Regions from separate parts of the Homo sapiens genome. Here regions 1 and 2 are each linked to region 3. The links come from fine-mapping of genetic effects on gene expression. A gene starts in region 3. Each other region holds a variant in brackets. All regions are shown on one strand. Distances are from middle to middle. Region 1 has its middle 22 kb from the start of DEFA6. Region 2 has its middle 15 kb from the start of DEFB1. Region 3 holds the start of GS1-24F4.2 (a long non-coding RNA gene).

The links. PIP is the estimated chance that this variant, and not a neighbour inherited with it, causes the effect.
Region 1: its variant is the best candidate, but not a certain one, in a credible set for the expression of GS1-24F4.2 in sun-exposed skin (GTEx, PIP 0.53).
Region 2: its variant is the best candidate, but not a certain one, in a credible set for the expression of GS1-24F4.2 in esophagus mucosa (GTEx, PIP 0.62).

What each region holds. Positions count from the first base shown.
Region 1 is chr8:6,902,244-6,906,475 of GRCh38, forward strand. No RefSeq gene overlaps it. Among named protein-coding and RNA genes, the nearest start is that of DEFA6, 22 kb to the right of the region's middle. The variant A/G (reference allele first, on the strand shown) is at 1,806.
Region 2 is chr8:6,861,130-6,865,361 of GRCh38, forward strand. No RefSeq gene overlaps it. Among named protein-coding and RNA genes, the nearest start is that of DEFB1, 15 kb to the right of the region's middle. The variant G/C (reference allele first, on the strand shown) is at 1,954.
Region 3 is chr8:6,832,998-6,837,229 of GRCh38, forward strand. It overlaps GS1-24F4.2 (a long non-coding RNA gene), which reads left to right and starts at 2,557. Exons shown (of 3, transcript NR_045217.1): 1 at 2,557-2,620; 2 at 2,969-3,224. XKR5 (XK related 5) reads right to left here and starts at 2,527. Exons shown (of 7, transcript NM_207411.5): 1 at 2,439-2,527. The coding sequence starts at 2,496. RefSeq lists an enhancer at 909-1,777.

The sequences.
Region 1 (4,232 bases), 69 kb after region 3:
ACAGGCATGCGCCCCCACAGCTGATTAATTTTTGCATTTGTAGTAGAGATGGGGTTTCACCATGTTGGCCAGGCTGGTCTCGAACTCCTGACCTCAAATGATCAGCCTACCTTGGCCTCCCAAAGTGCTGGGATTACAGGCGTGAGCCACTGCGCCTGGCCCTTTCTAGTGCATTTGAATCAGTCTAAATATCAATGGGTTCCTTATTAGTTTGCCCATTTATTCATGGATGTTGATTGACTGCTTGCTGTGCATCTGGGAGCCTCCTGTCTCCCAGCTGGCTGTGCCCTCAGCAGCAACACTCTTGTCCCTCCCACGTGTGGGCCTGAGTCAGGGTTCACTACTGTGGGGAACTCGTGAGGGATTTGGACAGTTTTGGTGAAGTGCAGGCCACCATTCTTGGAGATTGGTGGAGGTTTCTTAGCCTTCTCGGCAACAGGCCTCAGCCATGGGTGGGGAGGCTTCTGTGACCTTGGTCTGCAGCCTGGAGGACGACACTTCCCCTGCGCCCGCCCTCCCTGTTTCCTGGCTCCACTTGCAGGGGCTCTGTCCTGATGCCAATCACATGGAGTCACAGGACAAGCAAGGTTCCTTCCCTCCTAGAACTTCTGTTTTACTAGAATAGGTTAACCCAGTGGAAAAGACGGACAACAGACCCATAAACTCTGTGTGTGTGTGTGTGTGTGTGTAAAATATGGTGTCAGGCAGGGGAAAGTGTGTAAAAAATTAATCAGGATAAGTGGATGAAGAGGTTAGTTTAAGAGGAGGCAGTCTGAGAAGGCCTCTCTAGAGAGGGAGCCACCAATATTGTATACACGCACGCGCACAGACACACACAGCCACACATACACACACACACACGTAGACACACTCACACATACAGACGCACCCACACATACAGACACACACAGACACACACACAGACACATAAGCACACAGACACACACACATACAGACACAGACACACATGCACAGACACACATGCAGACACACACACACAGGCACACACAGATACATAGACACACACATGCACAGACACACATACACACAGATACACACAGACACACAGAGACACACAGACACACACGCACAGACACACACACAGACACACAGAGACACACACATACAGACACACACATGCACATGCTGACCCACGGGTGCACATACACACACAGGCTGAGCCGGCTGGTATTTCCTCTCTTCCCCTGTTTTGCCCAGACACGCAGGCATCACGGTGTCTGCTGGCCACATCCTCCACCCAAACGCAAAAGCTGGGAGAGGAGCCTAGAGGGTAGGTAACAATAAGGTCAAGGGCAGTTGCTGCCTCAGAGGACACATCCCAGATGAGGCACAGGCTGGGAAGGAGCCCAGGGGCAGCAGGGACCCAGGGGGAAGAGAAAGGACAGGGGGAAGAGAAAGGATGGGGGAAGAGAAAGGACAGGCTGGATGAAGCCCCCCCACGATTCTTTCTGACCCAGCATGCCCTCCATCCACCATCCCTCAGCCCCAGTCACCAGCGTAGGCGCTCCAAGGACTGGTGTGAACTGAGGGCATGAGTGCAGCCTGGGGCACAGAGATGACTGTTCTCACTGCAAGCCTATCAAGCCCTCCTGGCTTCCACTCTGTGCTGCCTGAAATGTCTATAAATGGTGTCTGTAAGTCTGTGGCGTGTAAAGGCTGCCTTCCTCCTCCCTGATGTGCATAAGGGCAGAGCTGTAAGGTGAATTCTAGCCCAGTGGCGTATGCGAGCTGGACAGGTAGAGTGCAAGTACTTGCCTCCCTGAGTCTCTGTCTCATCCTGGGAG[A/G]TAGGGTGACAGTGGCCTTATAGGACTGTTGCTGTGGAGGTCAAATGGGCTAAGGCCCAGTGCCTTCTGTGTGGCTAGGCTCATGGCTGTAGCATTGCAAGAATCCCAGGCTTTAGTGTCTGCGACTGTGAATTCCAGCATGGCTAATTATTAGACAAGTAACTGGGAGTATATAACCAAAGTGCCCGGGTCACATTTTCTGTAGCTGCAGAACAACACCTGTTTTGCATAAGACCAGATGGCAAAATGTGGGAAAATGCTGCACTGAATACAAGTTTGGGTTGACTGGCTCCACCGGGCCCAGGCGTGTGGCAGTTGTGATGGAATCCACTTCACGTCTTCCTCTGACAGGGTGTGTGTACTCAGCCCAGGAGCTGGGGAGACCTCATGTTCATATTAGTTTGGTGCAAAAGCAATTGCGGTTTCAGACTGTGAATTTTAAAAAATTATAACTAGGCTCAAATACATTTTTATTAGTCAAAATAGGAACCATTACAATCAACACATTTTTGCCAACAAGAAATAAGTTTGTTTATTCCTGTAGTGTAAAAATTTGTGTTTCAGGATTTGAGTAACTGTTGGAAAGCATTTTTCTGCATCCTGCTGGTTGCGGAAGTGTATTCCCTGCAAAAAGTTGTCCAGATGCTTGAAGATGTAGTTGGTTGGCAAGAGGTTCAGGTGAATATGGTGCATGAGGCAAAACGTCATAGCCCAATTCGTTCAAGTTTTGGAGCATGGATCGTGCAACTTGGGGTCGGGCATTGTCGAGGAGAGAATTGGGCCCTTTCTGTTGACCAGCGCCAGCTACAGGCATTGCTGTGTTCGATGCATCTCGCGGATTTGCTGAGCATACTTCTCAGATGTAATGGTTTCTCAGGGATTCAGAAAGCTATAATGGATCAGACCTGCGCAGACCAGACCACCAAACAGTGACTATGACCTATTTTTGGTGCGAGTTTGGCTTTGGGAAATGCTTTGGAGCTTCTTCTCAGTCCAGCCACTCAGTTGGTCTCCACCGCTTATCGTATAAAATCCACTTTTCATCGCATGTCACAATCTGATCAAGAAATGGATTGTCGTTGTTGTGCAGAATAAGAGAAGATGACACTTCAAAATGATGATTTTGTTTTTTAAATTTGTGTTTGGCTCATGAGGCACCCACTTATTGAGCTTTTTCACCTTTCCAATTTGCTTCAGATGCCGAATGACCGTAGAATGGTCGACGTTGAGTTGTTTGGCAACTTCTTGGGTAGTTGTAAGAGGATCAGCCTCGATGATTGCTCTGAACTGGTCGTGGTCAATTTCCCGTGGCCGGCCACTACGCTTCTCATCTGAACCCCCACTGTACTGTGTGTTCATTAGCAGTTCCTGGACCAAATGCGTTGTTGATGTTGCAAGTTGTCTCTGCTGCTTTATGACGCATTTTGAACTCAAATAAGAAAATTGCTCAAATTTGCTTTTTGTCTAACATCATTTCCATAGTCCAAAATAAATATAAAATAAATAGCAAGTAACAAGCCGTTAGCCAAAAAAAGTGAGAAATGTGCATTGAAATGTATAATATAACCACATTTATTTAGGAAGCTATTCCAATGTCAATTAGCAAATTTCCACAATACAAAAACTGCAATTATGTTTGCACCAACTAATAGAAAGCTTTCTATGCAGATACATGGAAAAGTGGGAGCTCCTAAACAGCAGGGACCAGGCCATATTTCTTATAGTTCTTGCACTCTGGCCACTTTTCGCATAGTAGCTGCTCAGTAAATAAGCACAGAATGAGTGTGGCTGTAGTTCCATGTTCAGCTTAACGGTACAACTAAAGTAATTCTTGACCCACAGCTGGGTTGAGCTATGCATGCCGCTGGAGCCCACTCACTGTGTGGTCCTGTTCGATTCCAGTCATCCACCCACCCATGAGCACAGAAGAGAGGGGTCCTGTAGAAGTCTAATACCCCTTCTTCTCAGGCCTCTGTTATCACAACATCACCAATTCCCTGCAAACCCTCCCAGAGCTTGCAAAATGCCAAATCCCAAAGGTGCCATGAAAGGATCCATGGCGCCCTGGATCCCTGGCAGAATCTTTTCCACGGCAGGATCTTTTAAGGGAGTGGTGGAGAGGGTGAACATTTGACTTCAGTTATCTTTTTCAGTGAAGAAGCCACTAAAAGTGATTCTACCATGGGAGGGACACCAGTGGAGGAGAGAAGTGGGGAGCACCAGGGGCCACTAGGATTCTGGGTGCTTTGACTGTATTTTCTCATTTAATTTCAGAACCCCAAATCTGAATAGCACCATGTCAAAATAACTAAAGAGATAAATTTCATGAGAGCTAGAAATAATATTGTCATGACGGTTATTATTTAAATATTTTTGGTACAATTTGGGATTTTTTTTCTAAATTCTCATGGCACATCTGAGAGGTCT
Region 2 (4,232 bases), 28 kb after region 3:
GGTCTGTTAGGTCTGATCTTTCACTGATATAATTTCCTCAGTTATAATTTTGCAAAGGCGGTTTCGGTCCTGCCTCTCATTACAGGGCCACTTGTTGAGTAAAAGGGTCTCAAAAGATAAAGATATTGGCTTTGATGGGGGTGATGGAGGAGAGAGGATGAGCCTGACGTCATGTCCCATGCCAGTGAGTGGGGCGTCAGGAAAAAGAAGGAGATTCTTTAACAATGGAAAGCTGCTAAAAATCTATGGAATTGGACTGAGAGACCATTAGCAGTTTTTGGAAGAAGAAACCACTTCAGGTTTGCTCCCTGGGAAAGAAAAATATCTTGGGCCCCCAAAACTCACTAAGCTAAAAGGAAAACTCAAGCTGGAAACCGCTTAGGGCCAACCTGCCTCTCATTCTATTCAACCTACCTCCCATTCTATTCAACCTACCTCCCATTCTATTCAACCTACCTCCCATTCTATTCAACCTGCCTCCCATTCTATTCAACCTGCCTCCCATTCTATTCAACCTGCCTCCCATTCTAGTCAAAGTTATCTCCCTGCTCATTGAGATGAATGCATATCTGATTGCCTCTTTTGGAAAAGCTAATCAGAAACTCGAAATAAGGCAAGTTTGTATTTCACCTATCTGTGACCTGGAAGCCCCTCCCTGCTTCAAGTCTTCCTGGCTTTCCTTCAAATTGTCCTATCTTTCCAGACCGAACCAATGTACTTTTCACATATATTGATTGATGTCTTATGTCTGCCTAAAATGTGTAAAACCAAACTGTGCTCCAACCACCTTGGGCACATGACGTCAGGACTTCCTGAGGCTGTGTCACGGGTGCGCATCCTCCACCTTGACAAACTTTCTAAATTAACTGAAACCTGTCTCAGATTTTGGGGGTTCCCATACCTAACGAGTCACATCAGTCAAATCAGTTATAACACTTTGCCGAGTAAGTTCCCATAAACGTTTTATTACCATGTTTGCCATAATTTTAAGGGAGAAAAACAAGGGCCCGAGAGTTTTAAGTCCTTGTCCAGGTAGACACGCAGGTGGGTGGTGGCAGAGGAACTGGACCCAAGGCCTTCGCCTTCACCTCTCTGGATGGTTTCTAGTCTGTTCAGCTTCAACTGTGACATCCTTTCTGCTCCAAAGCCTTTCAAGTGTCCAGTTGTACCTGACTTCTGTCTTCTTGTACATATATTCTGATTCAGCCCTGAGCCATACTCTAGGCCACAGTTGGAGGCTCTTCAATCCACAGAAAGAGCAAAACCACCTTATGAGAGATGGAGGCAGATGGAGGCAGCCAAGGAAACCATGTGTGGATGGGCCAGTCAGGCTCCTTCACGCTGGCCGGCTGGACGAGGTGACTCAGGTGTCCCATCCATGACACCTCCAAGAGCAAGATGGAGAATGAGGAAGGAGACTGAGATGAGCTGAGTTCTGATTGTATGTCAGGGGCTGGCTGGGCTGGATGAGTGCCACATAAAGGTTATCTCACTGAGTCCTCACACCTGTCCGGGGGGGTCCATTTATTCTACTCACTTTCATACACCCAAGAATGCAAGAATCAGAGAAGTTGTGCAGCTTGTCCAAAGGCCCAGGTCTGTCTGACTTGAGAGTCAGCCTGTGGTTTCCTGCCCCACGTGGGGTTCACGGTGACCTGCTTTGGTGCTGGGTCATAGTCGCTGGATGAGAGATTCTCTAGTAGCTGGAGGAAGGGGATCTAAGGGGGGCTGGGCTCACAGAACATGGGGAGGTGAGGAAAAACACACTAGAAGCTCTGGCTCAGGTGGAGGCAGGAACGCTCTGGGGTGAAATGTGTTGTCAACCATGGGATGACGGCTGCCCCGGGACAGGACATGTCTAATCACACTCTGCCCTGGTTTCTGCAAGAGTCACTGGGCTGGTTACGAAGCTATTGTTTCTCAGCCCCAAGTTCCCTACTCAGTACCTGCTTT[G/C]CGGTGGGGCGGATCTGGGAAGGTCCTGCTCAGCTCTGCCCACAGGGCAGGGAGCGGGTAGGGAGGCTGGTGGGGAGTGGGGGAGGCTGGTGGGGAGTGGGGGAGGCTAGAAGGGACGTGGGGAAGCTGGTGGGGAAAAGGGAGGCTTACGGAGAGTGGGGAGCCTGGCAGGGAGTAGGGGAAGCTGGTGGAAGAGGGGAGGCTGGCGGGGAGTGGAAAAGCTGGCGGGGAGTAGGGAGGCTGATAGGGAGTGGGGAGGCTGGCGTGGAGGTGGGGATGCTGGCAGGGAGTGGAGAGGCTGGAGGGGATGGGGGAGTCTGGCAGAGAGTGGGGGAGGCTGGCAGGGAGTGGGAGAGGCTGGAGGGAGTTGGGGAAGCTGGTGGGGAGTTGGGGAGGCTGGTGGGGATTGGGGGAGCTGGTGCAGAGGTGGGGAAGCTGGAGGGGAGGGTGGGGAGGCTGGCGGGGAGGGAGGCTGGCTGGGAGGTGGGGAGGCTGGTGGGGACGGAGGAGGCTGGCAGGGAGTGGAAAGGCTGGCGGGGACGTGGGAGGCTGGCGGGGACGTGGGAGCCTGGCGGGGACAAGGGAGGCTGGCGGGGAGGGGCTCCTCCTGTGGCTGCTTCCTGAGGCCTCCAAAGTCTCTGAGCAGGCCCCCTGACCTACGTGTACCCCGACCTGGCAGCAGCAGTTTCTTCTTGTGGCAGCAGCTGGATTTGATTTTGCGTGTTTCCCACTTAGAATCAGCCTCATAATACCCTGTTGGGACTCAGTAAGGGCCTGTGAGGTGAGGCAGGCGTGTTAGCTGGGTCTGCATCTCTTGTTCTTCCTGCCACTAGCAGACTGCCTCTAGGCAAGTAGCAGACCCAGAAGCATGATTTACCCCCAGGGGGTGGTCTGTTATTCACTCCTTGTTAGGTCGCTATCAGTCTGCATGGAAAGTCTGCTGTGAATAGGACTCTGCTAGACCCAGGGGTACAAAGTGCTCTGAGACGCAGGGCTGCTCTGGGCTGCGCTGGGGTCCAGGTGTGAGAGGTGGTAGAAGGTGCAGGGTGCGTGTGCAAGCAGAGAATGCTCAGGAGGTTTCGGTGGTTTAAGGGGAGAATGTGTCAACTTAACATAATAGAAAGGGTCAGAAACTAGTTTACAGAGGGTTTATTCAAGTGCAGAGGTTGAAAACGGGACATCTCTGGGAAGCACAGATTCCAAAGAATGGAAGTCAGTGTTACCAAGTGTAGAGATTTGGGATTGCTTTATATAAACAAAGCTTAGGGGAATTTCACAGAATTTCAACATCTGTGTAAGGCTTAATGCATAGTTCCAATGATCTGATTACTTGAGGGGGGCCTCTTTTGGAAAGGTATATCTAACATTCCACACTGCCATCTAGGCTGAGTTATGGTCGGGACTCTTAAAGAGGTGGTAAATCTGTAACAAAGGTCTGTGATTAGAAGGCGGAGATCTGGTCTCCGGTGTTTCCTAGCCATTACAGAAAAAGAAGAATGAGGAAGAGTTAAGCTGTAATCCAAGCAACAGAATTGCAAAACATGTTCCATGACCCAGATCATAGCCACACCTCTCTCAAGGCTTGAGGAGTCCTGGAAGTTCCAACAGCTTTTAAATGTAATTTATTTTCACAAATGCAAATACATATTTAAATATCCTGGCTAGGAAATGTCCAGGAATGCCTGGAGCATATATTTTAGAATACTCTGTAAGACTAATTAACAGGGGAGAACTGCCCAGAACGGGTTTGGAGGCACAGGTTGGCGGACAGAGAGCCGTGCCCAGAGCGGAAGGAAAGTGAGAGCTGGAGTGCTGCCTGGGAAAGGCCCAGAGGGGAGGAGCTCTTAGCGAAGGAGGTGAAATGGGATGTGAGGTTTGTGGGATTCGAGACACCAGGAGAAAGTTAAGCTTTGCCCAGTAGGGCTCCATAGGGAGCCACAGTGATTACTGTGGTGACTGCAGCCTTAAACAAATGGTAGGCGACTTTGTTAAAGGTGTGAGTTGAGCTTATCTAGGCAGGTATATTAGCCAGTATGTGAAAGCCAGGTATTTATAGTCGAATGTATTTATAGTTGCAATGTGTATTTCTAAACTAAGTCTACTGTGCCCAGCAAAGTGACATCAGAGACTTTAGACAGAATGCCCCACAGGCTTGGGGTGGGGATGGAGCCCCGCTGGCAACAAGCGTGGATGCTTACTGTGTGCTGAGAGTAAGTGGGGTTCTGTCTGGGGGGCTGCAGAGACAGCAGAAAAAACTATCTTTAGAGTCCCTTACAGGA
Region 3 (4,232 bases):
TGTTCTGACCTCTTAAAATCTTTCTGGCTGGGGAGTGACTGTCCCTCCCAAGGCTAGCAATTATTTCAGCTAGCAAAGGGCCCAGCCAGGAGCTTGCCTTTGACATGCGAACTAAATCTAGCCAGAGCCAGACCTCCCCTACCTGGCCCATACCCCCGCAGAAGGCAATCTTCTTTTGCCTTAATCATCCCAGGGCCCAGTGCCAGGAAACTAGGGACCACCCTTATACCCCAAAGCCACAGAAATTATTCAAAGGGCTAATCTGAAGCTGGTGCTCTGCCCTAGCAAAGCGTCTGGCCTCAACTTCCCCTGGTTCCTGTCTCCTGCCTCCTGACCACCCTGGTGACATTCCCCTGTGGCCCGGCATGGTGTGCCATGTCTCCTGTCCTAGGACCTGTGAGTACAGCAAACTTTGCTTTCCAGAGTCTCTCCTGTGTCTCATCTTGTGGCCACACCTAATTATCTCATTAAAAACAAAACCAAAGCACTTTGGGAGGCCGAGGTGGGCAGATTGCTCGACGTCAGGAGTTCAAGACCAGTCTGGGCCTCTCTACTAAAAATACAAAAATGAGCAAGTTTGCTGGCTGCGTGCCTGTAATACCAGCTACTCGGGATGGATGAGGCACCAGAATGGCTTCAACTCAGGAGGCGGAGTTTGCAGTGAGTCGAGATTGGGCCACTGCATTCCAGCCTGGGCCACAGAGCAAGACTCTTGTCTCAAAACAAAACAAAACAGTAACCAACCAACACAGTGTCCCCATCACCAGCAAGAGTCTCCTAGGAGCAGGCTGGGAGCCAGCAGAGCCTCTGGCAACAGGGACAGGCATTCACTAAATGACATTGTCAGGGCTTTCCAGAGCTGTTGGGCAATATACGACATGTGTGAAGCGCCTAGCATCTTGTGCATCCTCGAGAACGATGAAACCTCCTCTCTGGTTTGTTTGCTTGTTTGTTTTTGATGGTGGTTACGCAGTGGAGAGAGAATGTGCACTCCGCAGTCAGTAACTCCGCACTACGAAACCGTTAGTCCCTGTGGGGTCACAGCTCTCTCTGTGGGGTCCCTTTTCTCCTACTTTCACATGGGGAACTCCCTGGCCTGGAACTCTGGGCCTCCCCAATACTCCTAGCACGGCCTCCTCAGGGTTGTCTGAGGCTGATCTTGGAGGCGGTGCGCTGGTAGAGGCACCGCACACAGGCATCGTTTCACACAACTGTTACTTAGGTTTTCCAATAGTAAAGTTCTAAGTGGATGAATGAACACAAGCCGCGGATTTTAGGGAAACTGGGAAAACTGCCCTGAGGTACAGCTGCAGACGCTGCAGCTCTAGACCGCGGGGTCCGGGCTCAGGCAGCCCTTAGCGCCCAGGCTGGGTCCGGCTGTCACCACCCCGAGCGTCCTGCGGCAGCCTCCCTTGCACGAAAAGCCTTCGGTGCTGCAGGGCTGGGGAATGCTGACACCCAGTCCGTGCCCAGCTGGAGGGCAAGGGAGGACACCTGGGGTGGGTGCCGACCCCCGCAGGTCCTGTCTCAGCCCTTCCAGTCCGGGGCGCGGAGCCAGGGCGCTTGCGCGTCCTCCGTGTGCGTCCTGCTCGGCGCGCCTCGGAAGCAGCGGGACCTGCGGGGACGCCCGCGAACTCAGGGAAAAGTCCCAAGGCGGCGTTCCCAGGGTACCCCCTCTTCCACCCCAGGGACTCTGCCCGGGAAAAAGCTTCCGCAGGGAGCCCGGCGGAAGTGGGCGGAGACGCTCCTCCCGGCACTGAAGGAGTTACGCGTTCAAACCAGAAGGGCGCGAAAAATGGGGCCATCTTGCTCCGCCGCGGCTGGCGGGCTCTGGGTTCCCCCTGCGACGGAGGTGGCCTCGAAGGGCCGCGTCCCGCCCCGTCCTAAACCCCGAAGCGGAGTCGCCGTCCTACAGGGCCGCGTGGATGCGGAGCCCTGTCCCCCTCCCCCCGCCACCCCTTCTGCGAGCGGCCTCCAAGTCGCAGGGTCCCCCTGGACGGCCGGGGGTCGGGGGAGAGCCCGGGCGCCCCCAGACTTGCGCTCAGCACATCTTGGCATCGCAGCACTTTGCAAAGCTTGTGATGGAAGGAAGGGCGGATACATCTCCCCTGCTTCTGCGAGGGGATCTTGCATGCGTGGGGCGGGGGGATCGTGCATGGGCGGGAGGAAGTCAAGCACCAGTCGGGAGGGGGGGGAACCGAGCATGGGTGGAGGAAAATCATGCATCCTTGGGGGGATGGTGCATGCGTGGGCATCTACTAAGGACGGGAGGACGTGCTCTGCAGGTGGGATGGCCACCACCGTGCGTCACCGGCGCGCAGTGCTGGGCGCAGGCTGGGGCAGTGCCCGCCCGGGCATAGGCAGCCTGTGCGGCTCCCGGCGCCGGGGTGGGGTTAGGGGCTGCAGGGGTGAGCACAGCCTCGGGCTGCCGCACTCACGCGCGCTCTGCTCGGCCGCCTGCAGCAGGGCCGAGAGCCCCAGGAGCCTCGCGTGCATCTTCCGTGCCGACCCCGCAGCCTGCGCCCGCCCCTTCCCCTGCACGCGGCCCCGCGTCGGGGAGGTTTCCGGCCCGGGGCCCGACTGCGGGTGGCATTTCTGGCTAAGCCGTTAGGCGCGAATTGTATGTCTGGTTTATTCGTAGTGGCCAGCAGGGGAGGGAGGGAGGATGCTTGGGGTTTCTGGCTTCCAGGGTGGGTGGGGACGAGGTGGTGGAGTCCAGCTCAGGTCCGGGCTCCTGATAAGGGCAGAAGCGGGTTCTGCGCTGCCCCCAACCCTGTAACCGCCAGGAAAGCGCTTGGTGAGCGTCGGGACTGCGCAGGTTCCTCGGGAGGTGGCTAAACTGGCCACCGCCTCTGGGGCCGCCTAAAGCAAGTCCGTTAACCACTAGTCAGGGAGGAATACTGTGTTTGAGTAAATATATGTAGAGTTGGGTTAGAATCATTGATTGGGTCTTTTTGAAATCTTACAGTTCTGTGTCCAGAAAACACAGGGCACGTTACCCGGTATCGTGGTCTACACCTCGCCCACAAATCCATCCCAGGCTGTATCCTCATGGAAGCTTTTTCCAGATGTGCTTGAGGGTTAAGATCGCAATGTGCAAGAAGAAAAAGTGCACATTGGAAAACCTTCTCTTCGGAGATATCTATATCTATATTTATATATATTTACAGATATGGAGATATATACACACACGTATCTGAAAACATTCTGACGTTTTAAAAACGGTAAGACAGACTTTTATTCAGAACCATTTCCTTAGATGTAAGGGACTGCACTGAGGTTTTGCAGCAGGGGAGAGAGATTGGGGTCCGAAAATAATAAGGAAAAGTGGGGATTTATAGCCAAGGAGCAGTGTGGGGGACGGTGGATGGAAAGTCATTGAGAAGGGGACATCAAGTGGGGGTTCTGGCTTCCCTGACCTAACAGGATTCCTGCTGAGGGTGGGCCAAGTTGATCCACATCGGGGATGGGGGTGGGGTGGAGCAGGTGTTGGAATTTGGTCAGATATGGAGGGTATTCAGACACCTGAGGTGGGGAATTGGGATTAAACTGACTTAGCAGGATTCTTGCTAAAACTAGACTCTGCAGGAACAGAGGAAGGAATGCCCAGGTTGGGCCCAGTCGTGCAGAGAGCTCGGAGGAGGCTGTCCAGAGTCTGATCAGGGAGACATTCTTTGTCATTCATGTATATACCCATATATTGTAATAGGCTGTTCTTGTATGACTATAAAGAAATACCTGAGACTGGGTAATTTATCAGAAAAGAAGTTTGATTGGCTCACAGTTCTTCAGGATTTACAGGAAGCACGGTGCTGGCATCTGCTCAGTTTCTAGGAAGGCCTTGGGAGCTTATGCTCATAACGGAAGGTGAAAGGGGAGCAGGCACATCCCATGGCGAAAGCATGTTCAAATTAACATAAGAAGAAAGAGAACTTGGCCAGGCACGATGTCTCATGCCTGTAATCCCAGCATTTTGAGAGGCCAAGGCAGGCGGATCACCTGAGGTCAGGAGTTTGAGACCAGCCTGGCCAACATGGCGAAACGCTGTCTCTACTAAAAATACAAAGATTAGCTGGGTGTGGTGGTGGACACCTGTAATCCCAGCTACTTGGGAGGCTGAGACAGGAGAACCGCTTGAACCTGGGAGGTGGAGGTTGCAGTTAGCCGAGATCGTACCATTGTACTCCAGCCTGGGTGACAGAGGGAGACTTCATCTCAAAAAAAAAAAAAAA